2 separate regions of the Homo sapiens genome follow, and region 1 is linked to region 2. The links come from fine-mapping of genetic effects on gene expression. A gene starts in region 2. The other region holds a variant in brackets. All regions are shown on one strand. Distances are from middle to middle.

Region 1 (5,224 bases), 53 kb before region 2:
TTCGTCACCTATGAGGCAAGTGGTTTTCACCCAGGAGCTTGGGGGAAGTCTGGCATCCACCTCTTCCTTTATGCCCTACAGCTCGTGCCTCCTGCCTCCGGGCTGTCTTCCGTAGAAGCTGGCGTGAAGGAAGGGCCTCCCGCCCTGTGTGCACCGTGGGGCTCTGTGGCTGTGACGGGAGGCCCACAGTTGTCTGTCCCACACGCCCTGTCAGCCTGGGCAGGAATCCTCCCCCAGGGCCTGTCGCCAGCAGAAGTGGGGTGGGCAGTGATGTCATGACCACCCGCTGCCAGGCTGGCAGGCACAGGCGGAGCAGAGGGCTTGGGAGGATTCCTTTTGTCAACTTGCAAATGATTTTCTGTGTTTGGGGATGCCTGACTAATGCCTGCCCCTGCTTGGCTGTCCTCCACCCTGCTCCCAGATGCAGCCAGGGTTGTCATGGTGACGTGGCGTCTCCTGTGTCTCCTGTCACTGTGGGTCCCTTGTTCTCAACATAGCTGGGGAGAGGGTCTTCGAGCACAGCCGTGGTCGACAGAGCGTAACCATGTCCGCCGGTCTGGAGGGTTAGATTCCAGGAGAGCCACGTGGCTGCAGCAGAAAATGCATGAAGTTGAACTTGAGCCCTTGGGGGCCGCCGGGAAGGTGGAGGTGGCAGCCGCCAGTCCTGGTCAGCCTGCTGCCGAGCAAGGGTACCAGAAGTGGGGCTGAGCTGCTGGCCGGTAGGGCCTGGGCTTCTCATGTCAGTCCTCTGAGCCCTGACTCCTCGAAAGCTGAGGCTGGCACAGGGTAGTTTTTGAGTTGCTTTTGGACGCCACTGTACCGTGGGAGCCATGGTATTATACTCAGTTCCCTGTTCCGAGAAGCTGCCCCAGGGATTAGTCACCCTCACCCTTGGGTGGGCAGCTTAACTTCTGCCCACACAGACCCTGGGGGTGGTTCTGCCTTACGGCGGTGTCCCAGTTATCAGCTGGGCTGCAGCTTCTGGGGCCAGGGCGCCCACCGTGGGTCCCATGTTTGGCCTTGGTGTGCTCTTTCTGCACGTGAGGCAGCAGTGAGGTGCTGGCTAAGAGGGCGTGTGGTGGGAGTTGGACCCTCTCGCATGGCTGCAGTGTGCAGAACGTGCTGGGAGACCCCAGGACTACAGACGGTGGCTCCTGTGCCCTGAGAAGGACCCGGCTTCTTCACGAGGAGATGCCCAAGGCTCTGCAGGGTAACCCAGAGCCCTTGGTCTGCAACGTCCGGGGAACTGTGTGTTCCTGGGCGTTCATGTGCCTGTGCACTCTTTCTCACGTGTATCCGTCTTTTTGTTCCCCTCTCATGTTTGTTAGGGCATTGTTGATTGTTTATATCCTATGTATGGTGCAGTGGCTGAAGAGTGGCCTCTCAAAAGATATGTCCACCCAGCAGCTGTGGATGTGGCCTTATTTGGAAAAAGGGTCTTTGCGGATGTAGTTCATTAAGGATCTCAAGGTGATATCATGCTGGTTTGGGCCCTAAATCCAGTGACAGGTGTCCCTGGAAGACGGGAGAGACACACAGGGGGAAGACCATAGGAAGACAGGGCAGAGACTGACCAGAGCCAGGGAACTCCTGGGGCTCCCAGAAGCCAGCAGAGGCAAAGATGCATCCTCTCCGAGAGCCTTAGGCAGGAGCCAGCCCTGCTCACACCTTGGCTTTGGACTTCGGGCCTCCAGAACTGAGAGGATAAACTGGTGTTTCTTCACGCCCCGTGGTCTGTGCTAGTTCGTTATGGCAGCCCTGGGCAGGGAAACCTTGAGTGACGTTACTCGAGGCACCAAAGGCACCAGTGCATTTTATCCTTAAAGGCCCACGTGGTCTGAAGGGTGTGGCCGAGCCTCACGCTTGTCACTTCAGAAGGGTGGGAACCTGACATGTCAGAGCTAATCCTTCTCATATTTTTAGATCCTGATTTCTTTTTTAGAATGGAAGAAAGTTTTTTGACTTAAAAAAATGAATATGCTTCATGTTTTAGAGCAATTTTAGGTTTACAGAAAATGGAACATAGTGTAGAGCATTCCGGGATCACGTTACATGATTATTTGTTTTGTTTTGTTTGAGACGGTCTGCTCTATTACTCAGGCTGGAGTGTGGTGGTACAGTCTCGATCTTGGCTCACCACAACCTTCGCCTCCTGCGCTCAAGTGTTCTTCTTTCTCAGCCTTTCCAGTGGCTGGGACCACACTCAGTAACCACCACGCCCAGCTGATTTTTTGT[AT/A]TTTTTTTTTGTAGAGATGGGGTTTCACCGTGTTGCCTAGGCTGCTCTCAAACTCCTGAGTTCAAGCGATCCACCCGTCTTGGCCTCCTAAAGTGCTGGTATTACAGGCGTGAGCCACCGCACCCAGCCTGATATGTTAGTATTAGCCAAAGTCCGTAGTTGAGGGTTCACTCTTGGTGGTGTGTATTCCGTGTTTTGACAGGTCCACGATTATAGTGTCACAGAGTCGATTCAGTGCCGGCTCATCCCTCACACCAGCCCCCACAACCACCGATCCTCCGTGTCTCCACAGCTCTGCCTCTTCCAGAACGCCACGGAGCTAGAACCATCTGGCATGCAGCCTTTTCAGATGCGCCTCTTTCCCTTAGTGAATACGCAGTTACCTCTCCTCCATGTCTTGCTTTGCTTTTTAAGGGTGGGATGTAATTTTCCACAAAGTGGAGTTCGATACTGTGAAACTTATGGAAAATTTGCTCTTTTAAAAAACAGCTTGCACATCATGTCATCTTAAAAAAAAAAAGTCTAATAAAGATATGAGTAGGGAGTATGTGTTCCATCCAGATACCCTATTCGGGGACCCTCCACTGGTAGTCTTCAGGTAAATAAACCTTTGATTGATTGGTTGATTGGTTGATTGATTGATATTCTGAATGGTTCCAGTCAGACCCATTTCTCTTTACTGGGAGCATCGCAGTGCTCACACCGGGGTGGTCGGGTAAAATGTGCAGTTAGTCATGGCCGAGCTAGTGGGTCTGCTGGCTCGCACTGTTTTCCCAGGGATCCTTTCAGCAGGCAGCTTATAACGGGAAAGTTGCTGCTATGGTGTCTGAGTAAGTGGGGAGAGTAGAAGGGGATGGACTGTGGCGCCGCTGAGTTCCTGGGCATGGTGATGTCTGAGGATCTGAGCAGGTGGAGCCCAGGGGGTGGTGGGGCTGTTTGTCGGGTTTCTGGAAGAGCGAAGGGAAAGTCAGGGAGTGTAAGGCGCATCTCACAGAATCGTCGGGCCGCGCTCTCTCCCGTCCTCCCTCCTTCTCCCACTACTGGCGATGTCTGGAGCAAAGAGCTGCCTTAGTGAAATGATAGTGAAATGTGTCTTTTGTGCAAACCATTATCAGCTTAGGAAGCCAAAAACAAAAGCCACTCTGTTTTCAGCCCTGACTGACTAACCGTTTTTTAAACCAGCAAGGACACTTCCTGAACTTTGCCTTCCCCTCCCTGGGCAACACCAGCAGGAGGTTTATTAGAGCGTGTCTGGGAGCAGGTTAAACTTTCTCCTAGGTGGTGATGTGCCTCCAGGTGAGCGCACAGGCTTTGCAGAAACCCCAGCATGACAAGCAAGTAGGAAGGTGACATTGTTGTTTGAGAAAAGCCAGTGACCCGGTTGGGACGGAGACACGATGGGGAGCCGGTCTCCAACAGCATGCCCTTCCTGAAGGTGTGTACAGAGCCAGGCCCAGCCTGTGAGGCCACCCGGGCCAGCATCTGAGGGTAAGAGGAGGCAGTAGTGTGCACTGTGCCCAGTATTCCTATTTCTGTGGTGGAGAGAGGCTCAGGGAAGAAGGAACTGTGACGGGGACAGTGTTGGCCCCACTTGAGTTACTGATGGCCCTGAACGGGCTTTTTCTCTGTCCGCTGGTGATTTAGGGGACTTGTTAATTAGTGAATGTAACGTTTCAACATAGCGACGTTTTCCAAGATGCACTTTGATTTTCAAGCGAGTTCATCTTAACATTGGTAATTTGTAAAAATGTTAAAAAGTTGGTAGCATAGACTTGATGGCTTCTGGGCAAGGCCAGGTCCTGGCTGGCTGGCAAATAAAATAAACTGCCGGGGCCGGTGTGAGCTGTTACTGCATTTTATCCAGGAGGCCGGGAGTGAGCAGGCACCGTGCTCTGAGGTACATTTTTGTCTCTGGAAAGGCAGGTGATGGCTGCCCTGGAAAACTCCATGTAGGGAGGCCTTGAACTGCAGAAACCAACCCGCAGGGCTGAATTGGGAAGTGAGCAGGTGGGGTGGCTCCTGTGAGCCTCATGAGCTGTCTGGAACCCCCAGGGCATCCAGCCGGCCAGGGGCTCTGAGTATCGATGGCGATGGCATGGAAGTGGACGTCCACAACCCCAGAGCAAATAAAGGGGTGGGTGCAGTCACCGAAGCCGCTGAGGAGTGGAACTGTTCATCTCTGTGGGATCTACAGTGCACGGAGCCACTCTGCAATGGCAGGGAGGCCCGGCTTACTTTATTTTTTATTTTTTAAATTGTTTTTTGAGATGGAGTCTCACTCTGTCACCCAGGCTGGAGTGCAGTGGTGCGATCTTGGCTCACTGCAACCTCCACCTCCCAGATTCAAGTGATTCCATGCCTCAGCCTCCTGAGTAGCTGGGATTACAGGCGCCCGCCACCACACCCAGCTAATTTTTGTATTTTTAGGAGAAACAGGGTTTCACCATATTGGCCAGGCTGGTCTCGAACTCCTGGCCTCAAGTGATTCACCCACCTTGGCCTCCCAAAGTGCTGGGATTACAGTGAGCCACTGCGTCTGGCCCTCAGGCTTACTTTAGAAATGAGAAGGTGAAGGTGGGTCCAGAGCGGAGCGTGTGAGTTCCAGGCTTGGCAGGGTGCCCTGGCATCCAGCTTACAGGGAGTCTGAGTTTGTGTAGAATCTGCCTCATTGTTCCTGTGTCCGTGGAGAATTCTTTCCATCCCAAACCATCCTGTCTAAGCTCTGAGGAGGCACAGGTGGCTCTAAGGCGGCACTGGCTTTTGCCTGCAGGGGCACCATCCTCAGCTACAGGTCTAACAGGAACTTGGTGAAATAAGCAGGCCCCACTGCCCGGACCTCCCTCCCTTCGTAGGACAGATGCTCTGCTCAGGGCTCCATGAGCTGTTTGAGAGAAGGTGTGGGTTTGTTCTTAGAAACATCATGCTTTCTGTTGGGGACTTAGGGTCCACACTGGCCAGGGAAGGGCATCGGGCATCTGTCAGAAGTAC
Region 2 (5,224 bases):
CCCTCACATGAGGACCGCCCCAGCCTGCCTCTGCTGAAGGGCAGGTATAGGAAGTCTGGACCCCCTCAGCGGCCCCCCGGATGGCACCCTGGCCCCTCTACCTGCTGGCAGTCCAGTAACCTGGAGGTGGTGGCCCAGAGAAAGGCGGGAACTTCTCCCAGGGCCCCGTCCATTGTTATTTTCACCTGTCCGGCCGCCCATTCTTTTTTTGAGACGGACTCAGTCACCCAGGCTGGAGCGCCATGTGCCATCCCAGCTCACTGCAGCCTCAACCTCCCGGGCTCAAGTGATGCTCCTGCCTCTGCCTCCCAAGTAGCAGGGACCACAAGCACACACCACCACACCCTAATTATCTTTTAAGTGGAGACAGGTTTCGCTTTGTGTGTTGCCCAGGCTGGTGGTCCGTCGTCTTTTTGACCCAGGCCTGTGTGGCTCACAAAGCAGGCAATTGCAGGGTCATCCCATCAAATCTGAGCATGGCACCAGAGCACACAAGTCAGCCACCTGCGGGCCTTGGCACCCTCGTGCTCCACGCCAGGGTCCCTGTGTGCTCAAGTCTGGGCTCCATGATGGCACTGGGGTTTGTTCTGTTTGCTGCTTTGTGCGCGTGAGGCTTTCTCTGGGTGCCTGAACAGATGCCTCCAGTTTCAGTTCTTTCTGTTTGGCCCTCCCCATCCTCTTCTCCTCCAGGGGGGATTCATGGCTCGCCTCTTGGCTCTTCTGGGCACTTGGCGAGCTTCTGCGCACTTGCGTTAGCTGCTCAGGTCTGTCTGGATGTGAGAGTCGTGTCCTCAGGCCAGGAAGCACTGGCACGGAGCAGGGCTCGGTCAATGGTCTGGATAATCCAGAGTCACTTACCTTCTGCTGTGCAGTCATTTACAATTCACGCCTGTGTGCCTGATGTCTTGTGACTCAGAATCTTCAAGACAATCACAGGCTGGCCTCACGGAGGCACGAGTGACTCATTTCTCTCATCGCACCCATTCCCTCCAGCACTCTCCTTGTGCGGGGAAACCTCAGTCACCTTGAAGACGCCTCCTGAGGCCCTCTTCTGGGTGAATGGGCTTCCTCCTTCACCATGACAGGCTACTGGGGAGAGCTGGGGTGCTCCCACCCTCTCCTCACCCCAAATGGGCCTGGCCTAGCAAAACTGGCCAGAACTGGCCACTCTGCAGTGAGCTGGCAGGGCCCTCAGCATCAGATCAACAGGTTCAACTGCAGCTGCCTCTCTGGTGGGGAGGTTATAAGGCCTGCTGGCTAGACCACTGGCCCCTGGCCAGGGAGCCACCTAGGCAGTGCCAGGGAAGGACTGGGAAGGGAAGAGAACCTGCGGTCCCTGAGTGAGGCCTTGACTGCACCCTCTCCTGTGGTTCGAAAGCCACACTTGGCCAGTATCCTGCCATGCAGGTGAGGAAGCTGGGGAGGACAGGGTCCCAGAGCCTTGTCCAAGTTGCAGAGAGGAGAGCCAGCTCTCACTCTGCAGCCCTCTGTGCCCCCAGACCCCCACTGGCCCCCGGGGACACATTTCCTGCCCTTGGGATGCTTTGGCATGGATATAGTCTGGGAACAAACGGCACATCCAGCTGCCCTGCCTGTCTCCACAGAGGGGGCAGCAGACCTAGGGGGAGGTGTCCAAGACACAGGAATGAAGTGTCCTTACCAAAAGCTTCCGAGGACAGAAATAAACCCCTCCTGCCAGCTTCTGCACTGACTGCAGCTAGAAGCCGAGCTCCACGTGGGACACAGGTGTCCCTGCTGCGGCATCTCAGCATGACGGAGGCCCATCCTTGGCTTTCCTGGAGCATGAATATCCTCTGAGGAGCACTGGCCCTGGCCTTGTAGGTCTTGCTGAGACTGGCTTAGATTTTCTGGCCCAGGAGCAATCGTCACCCAACCTCCCACTTGTAAATCTCGCCACAGAATCGGCCCACAACCGTCTCTCCGGAATCTCGGCGGACCAGCCCTGCTCCTGTGTCTCCCTCTCCCGCAGAGCCACTGCCTTCTCAGGCTCCTCAAGTGCACCTAAGAGCGGGAGTCTGGCTGCCCTCAGCACTCGCGTCCCGCCCTGCAGCCTGATAAGCTTGACGCCAAGGCATTCTCCCGAGAGCCGGCCCAGCAGCTGCTGGCAGGAGAGTGGCCTCAGGGCAGCGGGAAGGGGACCTCCGGGGAGAGAATGAGGCCTGCGCAAGGGTCCTGGAAGGACCCAGGAGTCGCCCCGGCTTCCCTCCCCCAGGCCCTGGTTGGGCGCCGTGGGCCGCGTCCCAGTTGAGCCCGGCGTGGCCGTTTAATGGCGTCCCTCCGCGACCGAGGACGAAGGGGCCTAGAGAGGCTGTGCCCAAGCGACGCTGCGAGGCCAGGCCGCGTCTCGGGCCAGGGCGGTCCCCTTGCCACCGCCGCTCTTGGCCGCCAGGACCAAGCACAGCACGCAGCGTCGCGAAAGGGGCGGTCCTGGAAGGCGCGAAGGGGTCTCCGGGTCTCGCGAACACGGCGGGGTCGGGGCGGAGTCGTGGGTCCTCGGTCGAGCGGCCGCCCAGAGCCCCGCGGGACACGGACGGCCCCAGCCCGGCTCCCCGCGAGCCCCACGCGTCTGTGACGCCGCTGATGCGCAGACGCCGCGGCTGCAGGCCCCGCCCCTCCGTGCCCCTCGCAAGGCCCTCTGGGAGTTGTAGTTCCAGCTCCTCCTCGGGCCGCCCCACTCCCTGATAATCCTGGAGCGCGGCGCCTCCCGGGGACCGAGGCCTCGGGCCCGGCCGTCTCCAGCAGCGAGGGCAGGAGAAGTGGCCCGGGCGGTCGGCGGACTGGGAGGGCGCCACCCGAGGACTACAACTCCCGGCCTGCCTCGCGCAGGCACCGCCCCGAGCTTCCGCCCCGTCGGCGCCGCGCAGCCCTGTGGGAGCCGTAGTCCGGGCGCGCGATTCACAGCGCCGCGTGCGCCCCGGGCGCGCCGTAGCCGCGGGGCCCGGGCCGGGCGCTACGCTACGAAGGCAGCGTAAGGCGGGCGCCGGACGCGGGCAGGGGCCGGGGCCGGAGCCGGGTCGGGGCGCCCCGCGGCTGAGGAGCGGGAGGCCGTCCGGGCAGCGCGGCCGGCGGCGAGAGGGGCCCCGCCGCTCTCCGGAGGCAGAAGTTGTGGATCGGCCGGCGGGGGCGAGCGGGCCCGGGGGCCGGGGCCGCGCTGCCCGGGCCGCGAGGACGAGGCGGCGCCGCCGGGCTGTGGAGGTGAGTCCCGTCGGCCGGGCCCGGCCGGGCGCCCAGCCGGGGACCCCGGGCGGGGAGCGCGGGCCCGGAGGGCGGCGGGGAGCGCGGGCTCGGCGGGGCGCAGGAGGCCTCGGGGGCCGGGCGCGCCGGGCTCCGAGCCAGGGCAGGGACGGCAGGGCCCCCGGAGTGGGGTCAGCCCGCCGCCCGCTGGCGCCTCCAGGCTGGTGGGGGCCAGGGCTGGGCGATGCTTCGCAGAGGAACCCAGAGGAAGGCGGGAAGTCGGCAGGGACCTGGGCCATGTGGGTCACTTGAGGCCAGCCCCGGGGGCCGCGCACACCGGAGGCGGCCTCGGCCCTGCCTGCCCTTGAGTGCCCTTATATCCGGGCCCATCGTGCGGTCCTGGCCGCCTTAGGGATGTTGTGCTTGGTGCGGGCATCACTCCCCTCACTTGGGGAACGGCCTGGGGGCGGCCACCTGGCGTGGAGGGGCTGGCGGGAGCCCCGTCTGTGCCAGCCATGCCAGTGTTCTCTTCCGTGTTCCTCTGGGGCTGCTGCGGCACCAGCTGGGAAGTTGCAAATCTGCTGTCCTCCCGCTGGCTGCAGAAGGGGCCCCTCTAGTCCTGACCGGGGGAACTCTTGTGTGGTCAGCTGGCCCTGGCCGGGCGAGCTCTCGGGGCCCCCTTACTGCTCTGGAGTTTGTTACCGGACTGCAGGTAACAAGACCCGGAAAGCAATGGTGAGGCCCAGAACCTGAGGCCAGGCCTGGGTGTGTGGGGCCAGTGGGGAAGACTGGGACTCCGTTGGGTGCTGAAGAGTTGTGTGCTTCTCCTTCGGGAAACCCGGATCTCTTCCTCTGCCCAGGTCTGAGGGGTGCGGAAACGTGAGTCACAGTTCAGTGTGGGAGTGCCCCGTAATTGCCTCCGCGTTTCCAGAGTCTGGGGCTGGGCAAGGATATAGGGGTGATTCTCCCTTCCGGTTCTGAGTGACTTCTCAACTGTGAAGTGGGGCAAGAGAAATTGTTTTTCTGGCCTGTCTGGGGGAGGCAGGTCCTGCAGGAAACCAGCTTGGCCTGGCCTTGGGTTGGGTGTGCCTTGCCTCCTCCGAGGTCCTTCTGCTTGCGGGAGGAGCACCCCTCTTTTTCCTGCTTCTGTCTGTGTCTGAGGCTCTCCAGAGCTCCTTGATTGGCAGAGGAGCCAGTGACCTCTGAGTCCCCAGGAGAGCCCGAGGCTCAGTAACTGCATAACTGCGCAGGGCCTCTTGTCTGGGCCTCCACAGACCGTGGTCTCTGAGAGCAGGAAGTGGCTGGTCCCCTGTAATGCTGCATCTGTGTGACAGCCTCAAGCCCTGCTGGCTCTCTCTCCGGGCACCCCTCACTTGCTTCTTGCCCTGGCCTTGGGCAGCACTCCGGTAACCCCAGTGCCACAGGTGAGGAACCGAAGCTGGAGACAGCTGTTCATGGCAGGGGAGGGGCCGAGGGAGGCTGAGCGCCTGGTCTCTCCCTCCTGCTGGTTCCACCAGTTCACACGAGGCAATTGGAGGGAAGGATTCTGCTGCCCGGAAAATCCTCCGGAACCACAGGTGTTGTTCATGGGCCTGAGCCGCTCAGTGAAGAACTCGGCCGTTGGTGGCCGAGTTGCCCCTGGTCCAGCCCTCTGGCCCGCGGTGTGATGCCTCTACTCATGGCAACAGGCGTGGACAGGTGCTGAGAAGGAGGACGACATCATTAAACAAAACAGCTTGGGGTCTTTGAAAAACAGTGACAGAAACCCAGGAAGGCTGGTGACTTGTCAGGTCTGTGTCTGTCCTGGGTGGCCACTCGGCCCTGGACCGTGAGGCTGAAATGACAGGAGACACGGAGGGTGGGCTTGGGTGGTTTCCTCATAAGACACAGAAGAAGGAGGCCCCCAACCCGGGGGCTGCCTCGTGCGCTTTGCTCTCCTGTTTTCCTGCTCTGTCCCTCTGGTCCTGCCCTCTGACCCCTGGCACAGCAGGAGTGCCCAGAAGCCCAGTGGGACTTGTTCTCTGCCTAA

The links. PIP is the estimated chance that this variant, and not a neighbour inherited with it, causes the effect.
Region 1: its variant is fine-mapped to the expression of CAPN15 in whole blood (TOPMed, PIP 0.92).

What each region holds. Positions count from the first base shown.
Region 1 is chr16:471,375-476,598 of GRCh38, forward strand. It overlaps RAB11FIP3 (RAB11 family interacting protein 3), which reads left to right. Exons shown (of 14, transcript NM_014700.4): 3 at 1-15. Among named protein-coding and RNA genes, the nearest start is that of RAB11FIP3, 48 kb to the left of the region's middle. The variant AT/A (reference allele first, on the strand shown) is at 2,236.
Region 2 is chr16:524,814-530,037 of GRCh38, forward strand. CAPN15 (calpain 15) reads left to right here and starts at 2,899. Exons shown (of 14, transcript NM_005632.3): 1 at 2,899-3,216. LINC00235 (long intergenic non-protein coding RNA 235) reads right to left here and starts at 2,594. Exons shown (of 1, transcript NR_024121.1): 1 at 2,034-2,594. RefSeq lists an enhancer at 1,458-2,019.